Linked DNA regions of Homo sapiens. The protein of the gene in region 3 interacts with the protein of the main gene of each other region in a pairwise test. Each region holds a gene or a part of one and is shown on either strand. Other genes may lie near its edges.

The links.
Region 1: the proteins of DNAJB6 (region 3) and SCAPER interact in binary tests that used the Homo sapiens proteins (3 or more experiments, as listed by UniProt).
Region 2: the proteins of DNAJB6 (region 3) and KLF5 interact in binary tests that used the Homo sapiens proteins (3 or more experiments, as listed by UniProt).

What each region holds. Positions count from the first base shown.
Region 1 is NC_000015.10:76,902,334-76,909,566, forward strand, and holds the start of SCAPER (S phase cyclin A-associated protein in the endoplasmic reticulum), read right to left. Parts: upstream 3,008-7,233; 5' UTR 2,966-3,007; exon of another isoform or gene 2,871-2,965; coding exon of another isoform or gene 2,860-2,870; intron 2,459-2,859; exon of another isoform or gene 2,415-2,458; coding exon of another isoform or gene 2,281-2,414; intron 1-2,280. UniProt on the Homo sapiens protein: CCNA2/CDK2 regulatory protein that transiently maintains CCNA2 in the cytoplasm.
Region 2 is NC_000013.11:73,054,299-73,062,011, reverse strand, and holds the start of KLF5 (Krueppel-like factor 5), read right to left. Parts: upstream 3,008-7,713; 5' UTR 2,685-3,007; coding exon 2,424-2,684; intron 2,331-2,423; exon of another isoform or gene 2,212-2,330; coding exon of another isoform or gene 2,173-2,211; intron 152-2,172; coding exon 1-151. UniProt on the Homo sapiens protein: Transcription factor that binds to GC box promoter elements. Activates the transcription of these genes.
Region 3 is NC_000007.14:157,332,055-157,340,011, reverse strand, and holds the start of DNAJB6 (dnaJ homolog subfamily B member 6), read right to left. Parts: upstream 3,009-7,957; 5' UTR 2,868-3,008; intron 2,459-2,867; exon of another isoform or gene 2,201-2,458; intron 1-2,200. UniProt on the Homo sapiens protein: Has a stimulatory effect on the ATPase activity of HSP70 in a dose-dependent and time-dependent manner and hence acts as a co-chaperone of HSP70. Plays an indispensable role in the organization of KRT8/KRT18 filaments.

The DNA of each region.
Region 1 (7,233 bases), on a different chromosome or scaffold from region 3:
GGGATCACTAGGCCAAGGGGAGCATGGGCTGAAAGACCACCTGTTGTGTACTATGCTTATGGCCTGTGTGATGGGATAATTGGGACCCCAAGCATCGGCATCAATTTACCCATGTAACAAATCTACACATGTACCCTCTACTATATAAGTTGAATTTTTTTTTAAAAAAAGGTTACCATCCAGCAGAAACTGCAAACAGAATTTTATTAATGATTTAATTTTTGCTATGCCAGCCATTTACAGTTTTCTCTTCTACAATTTCAGAAATGCCAATTCCACAATGGATATCAGATTGTACCCTTACAGAGAATTCTATTAAACTTCCCCCTAAATAATACCCCCACTTTCTAAGTGTTTAAATAACATTCACATGTGATTCCCAAAGAAGTTGTTTATCCTTTAAAACTAGTCTGGGCTGTGGTCAGGTATGAAAGTGAAAGAGGCCAGGTGCAGTGGCGCACGCCTGTAATCCCAGCACTTTGGGAGGCCGAGGTGGGTGGATCATCTGAGGTCAGGAGTTTGAGACCAGCATGGCCAACATGGTGAAACCCGGTCTCTACTAAAAATACAAAAAAAAATTAGCCAGGCATGGTGGTGAGTGCCTGTAGTTCCAGCTACTCAGGAAGCTGAGGCAGGAAAATCGCTTGAACTTGGGAGGTGGAGTTTGCAGTGAGCCAAGATTGCGCCACTGCACTCCAGCCTGGGTGACAGAGTGAGACTCGGTTTCAAAAAAAAAAAAAAGAAAGTGAAAGAAATGACAGAATCTCAAGTCCCTTCATCTTACTTATCTTTAAAACATTCCTGCAGCTAAATGAAGACATTAATGACCTTAATATCAATCTTTTAGGAGTTCTTAAAATACCTATGAAGCACCAATGGCAAACATTTTTAAAGTCTGTTTAGAATACTATATCCTTTGGACCAGTCACCAAAATTTATTTATAAACACATTTGTACAGTACTGCTGATTACACTTCCATGGTTATTTGACCTGAACAACCAAGTGATTAACCATAATGCTATGGTCTGCATGTTTGTGTTCTTCAAAATTCTTGTGGAAATCCTAGTTTCCAAGGTCATATCAGGAGGTGGGGCCTTTGGGAGATGACTGTATTATGAAAGCAGAACCTTAATGAATGGGATAAATTCCCTTATAAGAGGCCAGAGAGAGACCCCTTCACCCTTGCACCATGTAAGGAGACAGCTAGAGGGTGCCATCTATTAACCAGAAAGCAGGCTATCACCAAACACTGAATCATCAGACATCTTGATCTAGGACTTCCCAGCCTCCAAAACTGCAAGAAATGAATTTCTGTTGTTTATAAGCCACTCAGTCTGAGGTATTTTGCTATACCAGACCCAAATGGACCAAAGACACATAGAGTATATTTTTAATGCAGCTCAAGGGAGTGTGGAGAAAGAAGGAAAAGAGCATTTGTTGAGGGCTTACCATGGGCTAGGAACAGTTCTCAATACTTTACAGACACCTAATTTATTACTATCAACAAAATTATGAGGTGGATATTATTCCTACTTTACAGATAAGAAAGGCTCAGAAAAATTAATTTGCCAAAAACAAGGGTTGGGGCTGAGATTCAAACTCAAAACAGTCTGCCTTCAAAGCCATCAGATTACTTCTCCCACAGACAACCTTCCAAATCACATTAAAACTTGACTCTTTGATTGATTAAAAATATTAATTCTTTAGTGGATATCATTCTTCAAGTGGCATAAATCATCTGCAACCAACAAACTTTGAGGAAAAGTCATAGTTAACAGAAATAACAGAAGGGAAAGAGCACCAGTATAGGCCAGAGTGGGACAGTGGTCAGACTACCAACCTTAGGTCAGAAAACTTAACCCCAGATTTACCACTCACCAGCTGGTGATCTAAGGCAAGTAATAACCTTTTGAGCCCCCGTTTCTCCATTCATAAAATAAGTATTACTCCTAGCCCATCCATCCTTCTACCAGATTATTTATGAAGATGAAAAGTTAATGATGAAATTAATCCATAAACTAAGACAAACTATAATTCATATAAGGAATTAGTATCTGTTCGGTAAAATGACTATTAATGAATAGCTATTTTCATGGAAAATAACTTGTCACAACTAGAATAAGAGATGCAGTCCACCAGCAACAGGAAGCTGCTCACAAACAGGCGGCCTCATCTCAGCTGGGGCCCCCTTAACAGCAGCAGGTGTTGCTTACAGGACCAGTTTTGTGCCTGCTTTCTAACAATCCCGTTCCTCCCTGGTGCCGTTCCCACGAACGCGCCTGGAAAACGGTGTAGAGGAAAGGCGCCAAGGAAGTGCTGTTTTGGAAAAGAGCAGCAACAGAGGCAGGAGGCTGGGTCCCACTACTCCCAGGTGCGAGAGGCTCTTCGCCCCTCCAGGCCTCAGCGCACGCATCTGGAAGACGGAGAGGCCATTCCTGCCCCGTTTCCTGGGCAGAGCTAAGATCAGAGTACAGGGAAAGCATGGTAAACCCCGCTGGGAATGACAGATGACGAAGACGATCACCTGTCAAACGAAGGGAGGCTCCTCCAGGGGCCCCTCGCATTTAGACATTCCAGAAGCCTCGTCACCCGCGGCCGGGGCTGCCCCCAAGTGAGGTGACGCGGCAGCCCCCCACTCACCCCTCAGACCGCGTAGTGTGCGGGGTCTCACGTCCCTCACACCCCAGATGAGCCCGCAGGGCAGGGCCCGGACGCGGCTCACCCCAGCCCCCGTCCCGAGGCCTCCGAGGCCGACCTCCGAGCCCTCCCCAGGCGACCGCGGCTCCCCTCCCCCAGCAACGATCCCTGCCCCGCTCAACTCGCACTCCCAGGTGAGGGGAGGGGGTGAAAGGGCGTACCCCGCCGCCATTTTGTCCCCTGGTCCCCGCAAGGCATTCAGACGGCCCGCGCCCCAACCCGGACCCGCCCGGGTCTGCGCTACGCACGCCCCTCGCGGACACTCACCCCCGACCGCCCTGCTTAGTTCGGGGCGGCTCAAAGCGTCCCGCCGGGAAAGGGGCGTGACGGGGCGGGGCAGGGAGGCCTCGGAGAGGCGGGGTGGCTTCCCGGCGCACCACGTGATCTCAGCCGCTGCCGCGCCGCTCCCGGCTGCAAGATCTGTGTTGTCCGCGCGCAGGCGCACGCCCGTTCGCGCCGTTGGGGCGCCCAGGCGGGAGGTGTGAGGGTTGATTTGGTTCGATGTCCCGGCGCGGCGTTTCCGAAGCTGTTTCTTTTCCTAGGTTAAGCTTACACCGCCGCTTTTGGCCACACAGGTCTTTCTCGTACTCAATCTCTTCCCTCCTCCTGCCTTATCACCACAGTCAATCCACAGATTAAGGACTTAGAGACGCGCCTCACAGAAATCTGTGCTGGCGAAAGCACTTGACAGGAGCACGCTGGGCTGCGCTGAACACAACTAGGCCTCCGAGAAGCTTTATCAGGGCCCTTCTGTGTGCCAGGCTTGGAAGGTCGAAGTACAGAGACCTAACAAATACGTTTCATCTACTTCAAAGACAAACATATGATGAATTAAATACTTTAACGTTTAAATCAGTCTGAACAAAATAGAAAAAAGATTCAATGCAGACTGTAATTATCAAACGAATATTCACCGTCCCTTTTCATCCAGCTGGGAAACAGCTCTTTACCCTTCCCTCTCCCTCCCCACCCGCAGTAGGCGGGAAGTCCTGGACTCACAAGCGTTGTGGGGGCAGGAACCATATGGCTATGTTCTGGCTCCCCTTCTCTCTTGCCTTCTTAGAAAACTCGCTTTTTCATTTATTCAGCAAATGTTTATTGACCACATACTATATATCAGATGGTATTCTAGATGCTTGGAGTTAATACGTGAGCAAAATAAACAGAAATCTCTAAAAAACCTCCGGCTTCTTGGAGCAGGGTGAAACCAGGCAAGTGTTACATCAAGTTTAGCCAAAAGCTGTGTCCTTACATATTTTAAGTTCAGCCTGAAGGTTTCTCCGTAAATAGTAAACTATAACCTAAATGGAGGTGTAAATACACTGCAACCTACTCTTGCGCCAATCACCAAGTTTTGGCCAAAGACGGCCAACTGTTCAAACCGTGTTCAAATAAGGTAAACGTCTAGCTATAACCATTCTGGCTGTTTCCCTACCTCACTTTTCTTTCTCTGTCTATAAACCTTTTTCCACCATGTGGCTCTGCGGGAGTCTGTATGAACCTACTCTGGCTCAGGAGGCTGCCTGATTCGGGAATAATTCTTTGCTCAAACTCTGTTTAATTTGGCTAATATTTTGCTTTTAACACAAGAAATAGTAAACACAATAAATAAGTAAATTATATAACATGATAAGCACTACAGTTAACAAAATGAGTAGGATAAGGGGGATAGAGTAGGGAGCATACTACAATTCTATAAAAGGCGGTCAGGGCCTCATTTCTTAATTATCCCCACTTCCTTTCATACTCATAAGCATGTAAACAACCTGAAGTCTCTCCCATCTTGAAATCTCCCGCCGAACCTACCAGACTCCACTTCAACCTCTGCTTTCTTTCCTATAATACATTTCTCCAATTATCTAAACAAGAGTGCCTCCAATTCCTCAACCACTACTCAAGTCTGGACTTACTGCACTCTGGTTTCTGCCCCACCACCCCACTGAAACCATTCTTTCCAACATCACTAGGGGCCAGCCGCCGTGGCTCGCGCCTGTAATCCCAGCACTTTGGGAGGCTGAGGCAGGTGGATCACCTGAGGTCAGGAGTTCAAGACCACCCTGGCCAAAATGGCGAAACCCTGTCTTTACCAAAAATACAAAAAAAAAAAAAAAAAAAATAGCCGGGTGCGGTGGCGCACACCTATAGTCCCAGCTACTCGGGAGGCTGAGGCACGAGAATCCCTTGAACCTGGATAGCAGAGGTTTGCAGTGAGCTGAGATCATGCCACTGCACTCCAGCCTGGGTGACAGTGCGAGACTCCATCTCAATTAAAAAAAAAAAAAAAAAAAAAGTTGGGCTGGGCTGGTGGCTCCCGCCTGTAATCCCAGCACTTTGGGAGGCCGAGGCAGGCAGATCACGAGGTCAGGAGATCGAGATCGAGACCATCCTGACCAACATGGTGAAACCCCATCTCTACTAAAAATAACAAAAATTAGCTGGGCGTGGTGGCATGTGCCTGTAATCCCAGCTACTCAGGAGTCTGAGGCAGGAGAATCGCTGAACCAGGGAGACGGAGGTTGCAGTGAGCACAGATCATGCCACTGCACTCAAGCCTGGCGACAGAGCGAGACTCTGTCTCAAAAAAAAAAAAAAAGTCACTAGGGATTTCCCTACTATATATCTTATGGACATTATCATCATTACCTAACTTAATTTCTCTTCATGACCCTCCTTCCTTCTGGAAATACTTTTCCTTGCCTTTCATTTTTACTCTCTTGGTAGCACTTCTCCATCTCTAACCACTCCCTCTCCATCTCTTTTAAAGTCTCTCTTATTTCTCCCAGCCTTTAAATATTGTTATCCCACAGGAATAGGTATAAGCCTTCACTCTTTTCCCACTGGACACACTCTCTACATGACCACTGCCTTTTACATAACTTTGGTTAGCATCTTTATGCTCTGGATTTCCGAATATATATCCCCAGCCCTGATTCCTACTCCTGGGATCCAGGCCACATTGTTAACTACCTACTGGTCATCTCCACTTGAATTAATAAAAATAAATATGACAAAAATAAAAATGATTCATCTTTCTTATATACATATAAAACAGCTTTATTGAGATGTAACCTACATACAAATCAGTGGTTTTTAGGATATTCACACAATTGTACAATCATCACTGCATTTTCTTTACCCCGGAAAGGAACCCAGTACTCACTTCTCCATTTTCCCTCAATTCTCTCAGCCATAGGCAACCACTAATCTACTTTCTCTATGCATAGATTTGCCTACTCCGGACACCTTGTATAAAGGGAGTCATGAGATGTGGTATTTTGTAACTGGCTTCTTTCACTTTGCATATATTCGAGGTATGTTTCTGGGCGCGGTGGCTCACGCCTGTAATCCCAGCACTTTGGGAGGCCAAGGCAGGCGGATCACAAGGTCAGCAGATCGAGACCATCCTAGCTAACAAGGTGAAACCCCGTCTAGACTAAAAAATAGAACAAATTAGCTGGGCGTGGTCGTGGGCGCCTGTAGTCCCAGCTACTGGGGAGGCTGAGGCAGGAGAATGGTGTGAACCCAGAAGGTGGAGCTTGCAGTGAGCCAAGATCGCTCCACTGCACTCCAGCCTGGGTGACAGAGTGAAACTCCATCTCAAAAAAAAAAAAAAAGGTATGTCCACGTTGTAGCATGCATCAACGCTTCATTCCTTTTTAAGGCTGAATAATAGTCCATTGTATAGAATATATAATCACCTTTTATTTATCCATCAGTGGAAGGACATACAGACTATTTCCACTTTTTGACTATTATGAACAATGCTGCTATGCGCATTCATTTACAAGTTTTTGTGGGGATATATATTTTCATTTATTTTGGGTATATTCCTAGGAGTAGAATTGCTGGGCTACATAGTAACTGTATTTTTAAATTTTTCTGGATCTGCTAGATGATTTACCAAACCAGCTACACCATTTTATACTCCCACCAGCAGCATATAAGGGTTCCAGTTTCTCCACATCTTTTCCAGCACTTACCATTGTCTGTCTTTTTTATTACAACCATCTGAGTGGATGTGAAGTGGTATCTCATTGTAGTTTTGATCTGGACTTCCCTGATAGCATAGTTTCATGTGCTTATTGGCCATTTATGTATGGTATTAGATAAATGTCTATTGAAATCCTTTGCCAATTTTTTAATCAGGTTACCACTCATTTTCTTTTGCCACAAAATCTATTCCTATTAATGATATGCCAAACAGTCTGGTTCCCCTCCGTGATGTGCTGCTGCCTTGGCCCCACTGATGGCAGATAGGTAACTTGCTTCAGCCAATAAAATGTAAGCAGGAATGTCAGTTCCAAGCAGAATTTATAAGAGCTAGCTTGTGCGTTCATCATGTCTCTTTTCTGTCTGCCACAAGCAATTTGTTTTAGAGAGAAGCTATTCCATCAGCATAAGTTCCATACTAGAGATGACATGGAGCAGAACTGCAGCTGATCCCCAGTGGATATGTAGCATTTTATATGGTTTGACTGTGTCCCCACCCAAATATCATCTTAAATTATAATCCCCATAATCCCCACATGTCTAGG
Region 2 (7,713 bases), on a different chromosome or scaffold from region 3:
CGTTCATGTTGATACTGTAAGGTAACCCTTCAGTGTCAGTGAAGAACTGGTCTACGACTGAGGCACTGTCTCGTCTATACTTTTTATGCTCTGGAATTATAGGAACTGGAGGAAGCTGAGGTGTCAGATACTTCTCCATTTCACATCTTGTCTAAAAAAGAAGAGATATAAAATGCATAATCCACCTGATTCACCATCTCGGGAAGAACGAACAATCGGCGCCTACTAAAAATTCCCCCAATCCCTGTGTAAGGTACTAGGGCAAACTCCTCAGTGTTGCTTATAAACATATCAGGCTTATTTTGTCGATTGTGTAATAACTGGTTGACCAAAACCTTATGAAACTCTGTGTAACTGGTAAAACTGCTCCCCCAATCACCCCCAAAAGTGAAAGACGCAAATCAAGAATAAAAAAGAAAGCAAACTTAAAACATTCCATTCTGATGCAATAACAAGGTACCATCACCCCTGTACAAGCAGGATTCCCTGCCCCATTACACAGTTAAGTTTGCAATTAGAGTACAGTATTGAAATGTTGCCAAACTACCTCAATTCTGTTTAAGTCACAAACATTAAAAAGCGTGGTTTTTTTTAATAGAAAAAACGATGCAAACCTTTAAAATATTGCACAGGTTTCTTTTCTTGACTAGATACTTCAAAAGTAATATAAAAATATTATTTGGCTATTTCAGTGTCTTTTCTTGTTTACAGTTCAATGAGAAATTAAACACAACGTTCTAAGCAAAACCTTGTATCCACTGAAACAAAACAATTTCACATTCAATATTTGATCTAAATGTTGATTTTCATCAGCAGATCCTGTAATTGGTTAATATGATAATGAAATGTTCCTATTCATATCCCTATCTAAAACAGATCTTTAATTACCTAGGGGAAAATCACTCCCTTGGTAGAGTGCTGCTAAGGAGCCCGTGGGTGGGGAGGCTGCTGTATCCCTAGCACAGTCATCAGCAAAACATTTATCATGTCCTTCTCAGTGGGCCAATGCTACATTCCCCCCTACTCTGTAAAAAGCTCAGTCATCCCTTATCTTCTTAGTGCCTCCAGAGCAGAAAATTGACAAACTGAAATAACCAAATACTTTTCAAACGGTGATCTCTTTTCTAGGCTATAAACCAGCTTGTAACAAGTCGCCTCAAGCCTTTTCCAGCTATCTTCTCTCCTAGTATAACTTAAGCCTACATTTTTTAACACTGAAAAGGAAATTTCGAAAGATAAGAAAACCAACTAGATGGAATGGCGCATATATTAGCTGTGGCACCTTAACAGGTAAATAAGACAGTCATTTTCTGCTACTACTTCATTTCAAATGCGTTTCATCTCGGACCTTGGTGTGGATGCGGACGGGGTTTCCCGGATAGACATGATTTAAAAATAAAAATTAACGCTCTCATCATGTGAGTCACATCTCTGACAAACGCCACTGCCCTCTCACAGCAAGACCCTGGCAGACCCCACGGAGTAGGCGCTGGGTAGCAAATATACGACACGCCAAAGAGCTACTAAATGAAGTGTCTTGAAATAAACTGAACTAAACCCTTTCGTGCACTGCGCTCCCGCGGCGGTTAGTGGTTTCTGATTTTAGCTCTTCCAGCTGTTTGCATGTGGGTATGTTTCCAATTTTTTTTTCCTTGGGACAGGCTAAAAGTCCCGGGAAGTTTTTTCTGGGCTATATGACTCCCTGCGTGGGCGAAAGAAACAGGCGGTTGCTCTAATTCGGCTGCTGGGCAAGTGTAAAAGCCAACTGCCAGCTTTCAACGCGGCTCCGGGAGGAAATTTACGTGCACACGAAGAAAACAACACCCCCGGTCTTTTTTTTTTTTTTTTTTTTTTAAGGAAAAATAAGCGCTCCGACACAACCTTAGCTTTCCTAACTCTCATTTTCCAAACGCGGCCCGCAATCGCTTCTAAAGCAGGTTGAGCCACCGGGTATGAAACCTTGGGGAACCTCTCCCCAGCACCCCAATTTGCGTTTCTACTTAACCCGAGACGATGGGGATGGGGGGGAGGGCTCCAATGCCTTGGCATTGGAGAGCGGTACAGGCGAAGGCGTAATTTAAGTAAAACTGAGCGTAAGGTACAAGGTTTCGTCCCTCAAGTGTAAGAAAAACAACTAAGGTGCGCGTGAGCACCCAGTTCCCTCCCTCTTACCTCTCCCAGGCCGACCCGCCGGGGCAGATTCCCCTCCATCCTTCCCACCCCCGGCCCCCCCCCCCATTTACTCTCAGCGAAACGCGGGGCCCCGGCCAGGCGTGCAGGGCGGGGCTGCCCACCCAGCACCGGCTCCGGTGCGCCCCGACGCACGCCCCAGCCTGGAGCGGCCCCTGTCGCCCGCGAGTCGCAGCAACGGGACACGCCCGAGCCCGGGAGTGCTGCGGTGGGAGGGGAGCGGCTCTTCCTACCTGGACCAGGTCCTCTGGAGGCAGCCGCGGGCCGGTGGCGGGCGGCTGGGCCGGCTGCGGGGCCTGCGCGGGCGCGGGCTGCGCCTGCGGGCGGTGGTGCGCGTGCTTCAGCTCCTCGCCGGGGAAGAGCGCCGCGTCGCGGGCCGGATTCGCGGCGCCCAGCACCGGCTTGAGCTGCGCGAACACCGGCTCGTCCTGCGGCGCCGGCGGCTGGGGCACGGGTCCCAGGCGGGCGCTCATGCTCAGCACCCTTGTAGCCATGGGCACTCGGGGGCGCAGCTCCAGGCGCGGGTCGGGCGCACTTCCCACCTCGCCCACGCTGGCTTGGGTCGGCGAGCTCAGCGCGGGGCTGCCGGCGGAGGAGGGGAGGTTTCGGGTGGACTCCTCAGACAGCGGCAGGCAGTTTTCGAAGGCGCGCACGAAAAGCAAAACTCTTCCGCTCTTCCACACGTAAACGCCAACGTCCTCCGGGCGGCCACTTTCTCCCGCCCCGCCCCACCGTGCTCTCAGGCTCTCCGGAGCCCGCTCCCGCCACCGCCGACCTCCGCGAGAGAACCGCGAGCGCACGTACCTGCCCCGCGACTACTGACACTTGACGCCCGCCTCTATTTCACCCAACTCCGGGGGGGCGGGGCCCGATCGCCTGATTGGCAGCGCCGCCGCGAATCCCGAGGCCCCGAGGCCGGCCAGGCCTGAGCGGCCAGCCTATGAGCAGGGAGAGAGGCAGCCAGGGCCCCGCCTCCGTCGGCCCGACCGCACCCCTCTCGGGCCACGAGCTTCGCGCGCAGGGCGGCCGCGCAGTTTGTACACAACTTCTCTGACAGATTGGGCTGGCGGAGCCGGGGGCGGAGGGAAGTAGCGGAGCGGGTGGAATCTGGGAAGAGGGGGAATTAGGGTGGAGACGCGGAGGGAGATCTCTTCGCACTGTTCTCTGCCAGGATTAGGAAGAAAAAGAGTATTGCACGTCTTAGGTGTTGTGCAAGGACCTGAAACTCAAAAGCTGAAACCCAGAAGGCAGCTAGGTAGGGGCGCTGAGGCTTTTAGAGATTTGTCTAATGAGTGTGTACTTTTAAATATCCAAAATGTACTTCTCTTTAGCAGAAAACTAGGGGCGGTGTGATAAACAAATTTAAAACAGCTCTTGTCCCTGTGTATCTTTAGCAGTGAGTGTATCCGTTTAACAAGGCAAATTCAGAATGCCTGAATAAAAGATTTGATGGCAAGCGTTTTTTCAGATCCTTGCATAAAAGCCTGGGTTTTTCCCACTCCTTCAGGATTTTAATTGCTAGACGTTTTCCCACACATTTCTACTTCCCATCCGTGTGTGGGGAGGAGGGCTTGGGCCATATGAATTTTGAAGTTTCTAATATTTAAGCCGTGTTGATTCTAGCCGAAGCATGGAATCTAATTTAAGCACGACTAGCTCAAACGTGTATTTAAATAGACATTACATCTTTGACTTATTTTTGCTAGCACTGTATGTTCAAAAAATGGACTTTAATATTTACAAAGCAGAAACCTAGCACATTTACCTCACATTGTGGCACCTTTTCCTACGAAGAGACAATCAAAAAGCCGCAAACATAGACACAGAGCAGCTCTGAAAACTGGGAATCCAAATTTGTTGGAAAGTAATAGCCAAATATATTACCATCCATTTACTATGTTGTTATAATGGGAGGGTGAATTTTTGCCAGCAATCACCTAAGGAAACCACTTCCCTTAATCCTTAATGTTCTTGTACATGATTTTATCTGGCTTATTGGGAGGACGGAACAATAAACTGCAATAAAAATGCCTGTGATATTACTACAAATGTACATATGTTGACACACAATATACCATTAGACAGTTTTACATATACCACAGCCTATTCATCACTTCAGAGTAAAACAGCTTTAAAAAAAAGTCTTGGATAAAAACGTTCACTTCAAAGAGTGTATCTATCAAAGGTATGGATCTCATTTTCAATGGGTAGAAAATTAATATGCACATAAAGAAATGTATTTATTATTAGAAAATATAAAATTATGCTGTAAACTGGGTTTTTCTCCTTTTCCTTCTCTTCCTGTTGACACATGATTCATTTTTATAGCTGTGATCACTGCCTTCAGAGAATGGCTGATGACTACTTTCATGTTATCAAAGTATTATTTAATAAGTGCTTTTGCAAGTTTTTCTCTAACCAAGCAGCCCCATGCTGTCCATCTTCATCTTTAAAAAGCTGTCCTGCTTTTCTCTAATGTAAAACCTATCATGTAATTAATTAGCTTAGAAACAGATTATAGAATTAGGATGGGATTTAATGTAACTCTTTTAAAAAATTGAGCTTTGAAAGATTTTTAGTTACTTAATTCTGATAACATCAAACCTAAATGTGATGTAGATAATTCTTAATAGAACTTTTGTGCTCTTGTAACTTTAAGCTAAATCTAACTTAGATTTAATACATTCGGTAGCTGTATCTTAATGTGCTTTTAAACCTATCTAGACCTTTCCTTTTGTCTTTTTACGAGAGCTTCAGTGGCCCGGTCTTTCAACCTAAGTTTTCACTGCAATAAAATCCATGTATTTTACTGGAAATGCTTCTATAATTTCACACCACTTTTTAACATGCTTTCATTTACAAAAGCTTTTTCATTGCAAAAAAAAAACCATACAACTAAGTTTTTAATATTTTTAGTCTTGTTAATTTTTCATATTTCCACTTTTCATAATATAGATATGAAGCTAGCGTTGGGGTTCTTATAGTAACTGAATATATTCCTTTTTGCTCCAATACAGTAGCAGGTTTTAAAATTCCATTTTGGGCATAAAGATTCATGAAATAGGGCTGCCACTTTTAAGTAATAGTTTCTCTGAAATGCCCTGCTCTGCAGTCTCACAGAAAATAACTAGCTTAGCACTGTACAATAGTACGGAAATTGGAAAGTAATCCTTTTCGGAGACATTTGCCATGTGATTCTGAACATATAAAGAACATGTTCGACCAAGTTTCCTTGCTGTTGCTTTTAACATAAATGCTACAGCTGCAAACCTGTTTCACCGACTTAGTAAAAAGGGTTAAAACTTGATAAATATTTTTCAAATGTTCCAGGTTCTACATTGGCTTGAAGCCAGACAGTGTGAATGGACAGATCCTCAATTACTTTGAACTTTCTAGTTCTTTGCATTCCTTCCCGCTTAGTAGTGCTGTACCATTAGGGAAGATAGGAGAAAACAAAAAACAAATGTCAGGTTTCAGAAATCAATTAGTGGCCTGGCAGTGGTGTGTTAACTGAACTGTGCCAAAACAGGGGATTCTGAGGGAATGAAATAAAAATGTTGAGTAGTCAAGTTAGGTAGGAGGGTAAGCATAGAAGCAGTGTGCATGCTTAAGTCCTTAGTCACTGGGCAACACAGATTTAGTCTTAGAATAAACCATAAGTGTCACTATCTTTACGGGAATAAATACGGATGAATATGCGGGGGCTGAACAGGCATTCAATGTTGGGGGAGGGGGTTTGAAGGAGGCAGTGGAAAAAAATAGATAAATAGCTTCTGAATGATGAGATGAGGGAAATATGAAGCTATCACTAGGGCAATGTTCACACAACGACACGGCAAAAGGAATATCTAAATTCAGTTGTTTGGCAAATCTAAATTCAGTTGTTTGGCAAAAACGTCACAGCTTGAAATTAAGAGGTATAGAGTATCACAGCCAACAAAACTGTATTCACTTTGAGTAGAAAAATATTCATAGAATATTTATTTCTGCCAAATCAGTATCAAATTGCCAAGTGATCTTGGGCCACAGAAAAAAGAACAAGAATAAAAATGAAAAATAAAGCTTTATACGGGAGCACACTCTTCTCTAGGGTAAGATTATTTAATTAAAGTGACTTTTTGGTAGTCATTGATTGCACACCCCTGTTAGAATCTGTATCAGTGAAAACTTAAAACTATTGTAATTATTGTCCTCTCCAACATTTCACATCTGTAGTCTTTGTATTTTTTCATTAATGGCAACCACCTAAAGCCACACATCAGAAAAAAAGTCATTAAGGAAATAGCCTGATAAATAGAAGCTTCAACTGAGATTAGTTGGAATTTAAAGCATTTTGACTCAAAAGATTACGAGACAAGAGAGAAGATGCTCTGTTCATTGCTTTTGTGATGAAAAAATATGCAGTTTAAATAAGACTAAATACTTCTATTTATATTAATTAAAATTATGTCTTAAGACAACAATTTAATATTTTATTTTTGTAATGTCTCTTGCCTCCAGTTCTTAAGAAATTACATTTTATATTTCAGTTTGGATTTTTAAATGTGTTCTTCTTAAAATATTTCATAAAACTCCCTTTATGCACTTATTCCTAAGGGTACTATAATTTATCTAGCCTAATTTTAAAACTCTAATAATATCCAAAAAAACAGGAGAGTTTTACCTTTTGGAGAGACTGGGATTGCTTTTTCCACCTTGTTAGTATAATAAGTAGACAAAAGTGACATAAATATAAATGCCTGGAACCAAGTTATAGGCCAAGCGTATTGTAGCTTAAACTGCACAGTATTTAAATTCTGACTCGAAACATGATAGGCAAGGTTAAAAGAAAGGTCTGAGCTAAAGTGGTTACACCAAACAATCTTTTAGAACATTAGGGAGGTCTCATCATCAGCATCACAATGGGCAGTGTTTTGAGCCGATTGCTGTTCATGTTATGACAAAAGCTGTAATGTACCAGGCTGTGGGGAACACCCTGTGAATGCTCAAATGAACCGTGCATGGGTCACACGGAAATACTCTTTTAGATGTTGATTTATAGATGAAGTGTGTAAAAGTAGTGCTAAAAGCAATGTGAGTTCTTCATGCCTTAACTTCCATACACTGTTGATGGTTGTGTAAACTTTAAAACTTTGGGGAAGGACAATTTGACAATAAGTATGAAAAAGGCTAAAATGTAAATAACTTTGAAAATGATAGATAATTCCTCTTCTAGGAAAGGTGTATGTGTATATATATACACACACACACATATATATACACATATATATATATATATACACACACACATATATCTTTATATATAAAATTGGGCCAGGCATGGTGGCTCACACCTATAATCCCAGCCCTTTGGGAGACTAAGATGGGAGGATTGCTTGAGGCCAGGAGCTGGAGACCAGCTTGAGCAACATAGTGAGACCCTATCTCTACAAAAATGTTTAATATTAACCAGGCATGGTGATGTATGCCGGTAGTCCCAGCTACTTGGAAGGCTGAGGCAGGAGGATTACTTGAGCCCAGGAG
Region 3 (7,957 bases):
ACCCAGTCCACAGCGACACGTTCAGGATGACTAAAAATACCTGCCCAAGTTATGAAGTGCCCTCTTATAATACTCTTTAAAGTGACAGCCGGACGCGCGGGCTCACACCTGTAATCCAGCACTTTGCGAAGCCGAGGCGGGTGGATCACCTGAGGTCAGGAGTTCGAGACCAGCCTGAACAACATAGTGAAACCTCGTCTCTAATAAAAATAGAAAAAATTAGCTGGGCGTGGTGGCGCATGCCTGTAATCCCAGCTACTCGGGAGGCTGAGGCAGGAGAATCGCTTGAACCTGGGAGGCGAAGTTGCAGTGAGCCAAGATGGTGCCATTATACTCCAGCAGGGGCAAGAGCTAAACTCCATCTCACACACACACACACACACACACACACACACACACACACACACACAAAAGGCCGGGCGCGGTGGCTCATGCCTGTAATCCCAGCACTTTGGGAGGCCGAGGAGGCGGATCACGAGGTCAGGAGATCAAGACCATCCTGGCTAACACGGTGAAACCCCGTCTCTACTAAAAAAATACAAAAAAATTAGCCGGCTGTGGTGGCGGAAGCTTGAAGTCCCAGCTACTCGGGAGGCTGAGGCAGGAGAATGGTGTGACCCCGGGAGGTGGAGCTTGCAGTGAGCCGAGATCGCGCCACCGCATTAATTACGGCCTGGGCGACAGAGCAAGACTCCGTCTCAAAAAAAAAAAAAAAAAAAAAAAAAAAAAAGGTGCAAACAGACCATTCCACCCCCACCTCAGACCTGGATTTAGGTTATCTAGGTTGAAGACTGATGAGGGTGACGGGTACCACTGTCCAAAACAGAGTTAATAGAAGGGAATTACGGGCTTGCTTAAAAATGAAAGCTAATGTACGCCACTCAGTAACAGGTATCACACTGTAATACCATATGCATATTTTAGTCTTCACAACATTCAACACTCCCCACCTAGTGTTCCGGAAAAACTGTCCTACAGCCAGAATTACTTCCCAAACCTAACACTTTCATATCCAGAAGAAAATAAATTTTAAAACACTGTTTTGAAGAGAGTGCTGAACTCATCTCAAATTCTTTAAGAGCTCTGCCCTCTGGAATTCCCAACTTTCTCACCTTCCACAGCACAGATGAAGCCTGGACACTTTCCAAAAGCTTCCCAACCCCTTTGTTCTCCCACTTCCTGTCAAATCTCCACATCTACCAACTTAAGGCAACTTACTTCCCAAATTTCACAGCCTGCGTAATCCACAAAAACCCGCAGCTCGCTGAAGCGTGCATAAAAACTATTCATCCCTTTATCACGGAAGGCAGAAAGAAATGTGAAAGCACAAACTCCAAGGGAGCTTAAGGCCCTCAGGAGTGGAAACAAGTCTGGAGTCGGCGAGGCGCGGTGGCTCGCGCCTCTAATCCCAACACTTTGGGAGGCCGAGGCAGGCGATCACTTTAGGTCATAAGTTCGAGACCAGCCTGACCAACACGGTGAAACCCCCGTCTCTACTAAAAATACAAAAATTAGTCGGACATGGTGGCGAGCACCCGTAACCCCAGCTACTCAGGAGGCTGAGGCAGGAGACTCGCTTGAACCTGGGAGCTGGAAGTTGCAGTGAGTGGAGATCGCGCCACTGCACTCTGGCCTGGGCAACAGAACAGACTCCGTCTCAGGAAAAAAAAAAAAAGGAAGTCTGGAGTAAACCCAGAGAGAACGCGGGACGGGTGGACTGGCGGAGGAGTAAGGCGGCTGCATATAATTCCTTTCAGAAATCATGAATCGTTCTGATACGCAACACTATTTGGAAAAGTGCGGTTAAACACGAAGCAGCAGCAATCAAGCTTTAATGGTTAACGTCTGTTTCCTTTCTTCGGTCTTCACTCTAACTTTTCTACTAAATCAATAATTTGGCTTAAATTGTAGCGACAAATCCTTACTAAAATTCGCAACTCAATAAAAACGTTGAAAACTACAAAGAGCGCCGCTCAGCCTACTCTTCCCAAACAGGCTGAAGCCTCCGAGCTCGCAGGCGGCACCCCTTCGGTGGTGGCACGATCGTTCTACTTGCGCTGTTTCCTGCCCCGTTTACGTGAGAAGTTAGCACAGAAGTTTACGTCTGACTAGCAAACCCATCCTTTAAAAAATTCGCTAGTGCCAAAACCTTTCTCGAGCCAATATATGATTTGCAGTTTACACTGCGTGTGTCACTGACCTTCCTTAGGTAAGAGTTAATGTAAACTTCTTATATAAACTTCAGTTGCATCAACTACGGTGCAGATTCTTTAACGCAAAGCAAAGCAGACAAACATTCTGAGTGAGAAAGGCAGCCTGCTCTTCCACAAACTTCTGAACAATCCGTCCGGAGTTCTAGAAACAGGGCTTTGCGGTCCCCCACCTGCTTCTTCTCCCTCCGAACTTGGCGGCACGGCTGCGGCATTCCTGCTCCGCAAGCCACTCCCGTTTCTGGTTTCAGACGCGAGTGCGGGAGCCTTAGAAAAAGAAGGCGCTCCACGCCTCCCACGCTGCCGGCCCCGCCGAGCCCCAGCCGAGCCCCAGCCGGCCGCTCCCAGGCCGGGCCCCACCCCCAACCGCCGCCGCGGAGGCTGGGCCGCGTTCCGGCAAGGACGCCGGGCGGGGAGGACGCGGCCGGGCGGCCCCAGACCCCAGCCCCGGCCCCGGCCCCAGACCTGACCCAGAGGACCCCGCCCACCCTTCGCCCCGCAACCCCGGCCACGGCCCCCGCCCCGTCCAGTCCTTTCCCCGGCCGGCGACCCCGGTCACCCCCCGCGCTGTTGCCAGGCGCCGGGTGAGGTCCGCCGTCTGCCGGGCGCGCGCGGGGCCCTAGGCGACCTCCCCCGACCCTCGGAACAGACCCTCACCGAGGACAGAAGCGGCCGGTGGCGGGACGCAGGGGAGGCAGGGTGACGGCCCGAATCTCCTCACAGCTCCAGGACTGCTGCGCTGGTGGTGGCGGCGGCTCCTCGCGCTTTCCTTTCTCTCCTTTCTCCAACAACAAACAGGAAATGCGTCACGCGGCGGCGGCACGGCGGCGTCAACTTCCGCCCGACCCTGACGCCGCGCATGCGCAGTTTCCACTGCCCATACCGCGGGCCCAACCTCGGGGGCGCCCGCCCCACCTTCGCGAAGGTTCTCGGCTCTTCCGCCGCCCCGAAGAGCCCAGGAGACTGGGGGCGAGGGGGCGGGGAAGCCCAGGGCGAGGGGGCGGAGCTCGGGGCCGGGTCTACGGTACCGGGGAGCCCAGACGCGCGGAAGGCACAGAGAAGGCCGAGAAGATTCCAAATGGCACTTATTGTTGGGCCAGAAGGAGCCCATTCTGGAAACCGCGAAGTCGTCGCGCCCTTCATCTTCCTCTTGACCGGCGGCCCCCGGAGCGCGTCTGCCGCCTCTCGCTCCGCGGTCCTGCGGTGGAGCTGGGTGGCATCTCCGCACAGCGGGACGAAAGCTGGGGCGCGGGCGCGGGCGCGGGCGGAGAAGTCCCCGAAGGAGAAGAAGAACAAACCAAGCGGCGGCCAGCGAAGGCGGGCGAAGGCGCCGGCCCCCGCTTGTCAATTTAGGGAAGCCCGGATACCCTAAGTTCCCCGGCGAACGGGAGCGCGTGGAGACTTCGCCAGGGAATAGTGACTGAAGGAAACGGAAGCAAACTGTGGCAGAAAATACAGATGAAGCTTTTTAGGTTAAATCGTGGCAGTAGTTTTTCTGAAAACGCGGCGCATTTTGATAGCTGGACTTTAGGTCATCCCCAGGCTTCCTAGCCTTTCCCGCGTCCTCAGGGGTTCTGGTTCTAACCCTGGAGACCAACACCACATGCGTGTAGATGGTGACCAGCAGGAGCAGGGAGTCTCAGACCCAGTGCAGTCAGACAGGCTCCCATTCCCAGTAGCGAAAGGGTCCCGCAGACCCAAAGCCTAAGGAGCCAACAAGCAGTTCGTCCATGGAGCCTGGCCTGGATCTCCCACTGTCTTCCTCTCCAGCATTCAGCCAGATGTTTGCTACTGTGTTGTCTTAGTCCTGGCCCACCTTATCCTTTCCTTTAAGAAATAAAAATCTCAACTGGGTGCGGTGGCTCACGCCTGTAATCCCAACACTTTGGGAGGCCAAGGCGGGCGGATCACCTGAGGTTGGGAGTTCGAGACCAGCCTGACACATGGAGAAACCCCGTCTCTACTAAAAATGCAAAAAAAATTAGCCAGGTGTGGTGGTGCATGCCTGTAATCCCATCTACTGCAGAGGCTGAGGCAGAATAATCGCTTGAACCCAGGAGGAGGAGGTTGCAGTGAGCGGAGATCACACCATTGCACTCCAGCCTGGGCAACAAGAGCGAAACTCTGTCTCAAGAAAAAAGAAAAATCCCTTTTTGTTACACCTTTCCTGAACTTCAGATCCTGTGGCATGCTGACACTGAATTCCGGGGGCCTGCTCAGCCACCTTCTGAACTAACAACGCTTATGAATTCGTGATCGTTTAAGCCTGGGAGATATTCAAGTAAAAGGCACTTTAACACTTGAATCACTTTTGGTTTAAAATAGCTCGTTAGTAATGAAAGAGTTGGAGAAATGCCACCCTGAATTATGCCATATTAGGATACTGATTACTAACTAGTTCACTGATTACCACATTAGTATGCCCTCAAACTGAGGGCACATGGGGACCTGCCAATGCAGGGAGGGGCATTCTGTGAATCCCCCATTATTTACATAAAGACAGATCATCCCAAAGGGACTCAATTGTCTTGACCCCCTCCCTGGAAGTCTCATCCAGGGAAGAATGAGCCAGGATCACGGGAGAAGAGCTTCAAGGGACGTCAGCTGCACACCCAGACAGATTTTGCCACAGGCCACCACCTATTCTGAAGGCAAAAAATCATTTTCTCTCCCCTGAGCTGCCTGCATCTGCCTCCCCTCTCTTCTATGAAGGGGCTGTATAAGCTTCCAGATCTCACTGGATTCTGGGATGCCCTAGTACATGTTATAGATTTGTATACTTTTTCTCTTACGAATCTGTCTATTGTCAGCTTAGTTCAGAGACTCAGTTGTGAAACCTTCAGAGAGTACAGGGAAAATTTTCCGTCTACACCTGCCTCATTTTAGACAACTGGAACACTTGGTTAATGGCTGTAATTGTTATACTTCAAAATGAAATACTGCCCTTTTTTTTTTTTTTTTTTTTTTTTTTTTGAGACAGGGTCTTGCTCTGTCACCCAGGCTGGAGTGCAGTGGTTCAATCATGGCTCACTGCAGCCTTAACCTCCTGGGCTCAAGCAGTCCTCCTGCCTCAGCCTCCCAAAGTGCTGGGATTACCAGCATGAGCCGCTGTGCTGGGCTCATTTTTTGTGTTTCTTAAACTTTAATTGTATTACTGCATGTCATTTCTAGCAAATGATCAGTTAGCAAAGGAAAATCTGACTGGATTCTCTATTCTTATTTGAGACTGAGTCTCTCTGTCTGTCCTCCAGGCTGGAGTGCAGTGGCACAATCTAGGGTCACTGCAACCTCCACCTCCCAGGTTTAAGTGATTCTCTTGTCTCAGCTTCCTGAGTAGCTGGAATTACAGGCATGAGCAACCATGCATGCCTAATTTTTTGTATTTTTAGTTGAGATGCGGTTTCACAATGTTGGCCAGGCTGGTCTCAAACTCCTGACCTTAGGTGATCCACCCACCTCAGCCTCCCAAAGTGCTGGGATTACAGGCATGAGCCACCAAGCCCAGCCTCTATTCTCTTTTTTTACTGGTTATATAAATGACTGTTCAAAAGGAAGAAATAATAGTTTGTGTTAGTATGGGCATCTCATAATAAAACCTAAAATAATCTCAGCAAAGACTGGAATTTCAGATATGTGCACAGCTTGGCACTGTCACATGTAACCTATCTGCTTGCAGATTGATGGAGGTTTAGTTCCATCTCAGTGTGGACAGACAGTACTATCATGGGACATTTTACATGTCAATACGTCCCTACAGTGATTGTGAGCTCATCTTGAAATGTAAGCAGCACAGACATGAATTTTACATTGTAAGTGGTAGGCTAGCCACAAATAGCTTTTCCCCCTTCGAAAAAGAAAATATATGTGTGTGTATGTGTGTGTGTGTATATATATATACACACACACACACACATTAAAACGCGTATCAGGCTGGTCACAGTGGTGCACACCTGTAATCCCAGCACTTTGGGAAGCTGAGGCAGGAGGATTGCTTGAACCTAGGAATTCCAGACCAGCCTAGGTAACACCGCAAGACCCCATTTCTACCAAAAATAAATTATTTTTTTCTGGCACTTTGGGAGGCCGAGGCGAGAAGATTGCTTGAGCTCAAGAGTTCGACAGCAGCCTGGGCAACTTGGTGAAACCCCATCTGTACAAAATATAGCAAAATTAGCCAAGTGCGGTGGCACACACCTATAGTCCCAACCACTCAGGCGGCTGAGGTGGGAGAATCACCTCAGCCCAGGGAGGTCCAGGCTTCAGTAGAGCACCACTGTACTCCAGTCTAGGCAACACAGACCCTGTCTCAAAAATAAATACATAGAAAATTATGACCAGGCACAGTGGCTCACGCCTATAATCCCAGCTCTTTGGGAGGCTGAGGTGGGCAGATTACAAGGTCAGGAGTTCGAGACCAGCCTGGCCAACATGGCGAAACCCCATGTCTACTAAAAGTACAAAAAATTAGCCCGGTGTCGTGGCACATGCCTATATTCCCAGCTACACAGGAGGCTGAGGCAGGAGAATTGCTTGAACCCGGGAGGCAGAGGTTGCAGTGAGCAGAGATCGTGCTTCTGCACTCTAGCCTGGGTGACAAAGCAAGACTCTGTCTCAGGAAAAAAAAAGAAAAAAGAAAATTTTCTGGGCATGGTGGCACACACCTATAGTCCCAGCTACTCAAGAGGCTGAGTAAGAGGACCACTTGAGCACTTGAGACTAGGAGGTCGAGGCTGCAGTGAACAGTGATCATGTCATGGCACTGCAGCCTGGGTGCCAGAGCAAGACTCTGTCTCTAAACAAATACATACATAATTTTTAAGAAGCATGTCAATACAATAAATTTTATCATGAAGAAAAGCAACCAGTACAAAACAAGGTCCCCATCCTGATGGACTTCACATAGCAGTTAGGGAGGACAGGTATAAACACCTTGGAGATTAAATGGTAATATTTAATTAACTCTTTTGAAACAACGAGGTCTTTCAATGACAAGGATTTATCCCAGAAAAGATTTAAGTAGGAGTGAAAAGTCTTTGGAGACCGAGTGCGGTGGCTCACGCCTATAATCCCAGCACTTTGGGAGGCCGAGGTGGGCAGATCCCCTGAGGTCAGGAGTTCAAGACCAGCCTGGTCAACATGGTGAAACCTGGTCTCTACTAAAAATACAAAAAGTAGCCGGGCGTGGTGGCGCATACCTGTAATCCCAGCTACTCGGGAGGCCGAGGCAGGAGGATCACTTGAACCTAGGAGGTGGAGGTCACGGTGAGATGATATCGTGCCATTGCACTCCAGCCTGGGCAACAGGAGTGAAACTCCGTCTCAAAAAATAAAAGAAAGAAAGGAGGAGCGTGGAGAATGTGGATGGATTTGGGGTAATGGCTTGCAGGGAGCCCCGGGGGTTGAGGGCAGCTGAAATGTTCAAGGCCAAAAGTGGACCGAGAAGCTTCATGGGCCAGCAAGCACAGAGGCTGCAGGGCAGAGGGAAGAGGACCCAGTGCTGACTGGGGCCAGACTGGAGGCTGAGTGGCCACAGGGGTGCGAGGCATGGTTCCCTGTGGTGCCCACATCCCCTGATGCCCAATAAAACTTTAGGGCTGATGACGCACTGACTTTACCCACATCAACAAGCCTCGGTTTCCCTATCTGTAAAATAGGAAGAAGGATAGCTACGGATAGCTACTATACTGGTATCAGAAATAAACAGGGCAGTGTATGAGAACTGTGGTATCTCACACACATACTTATTT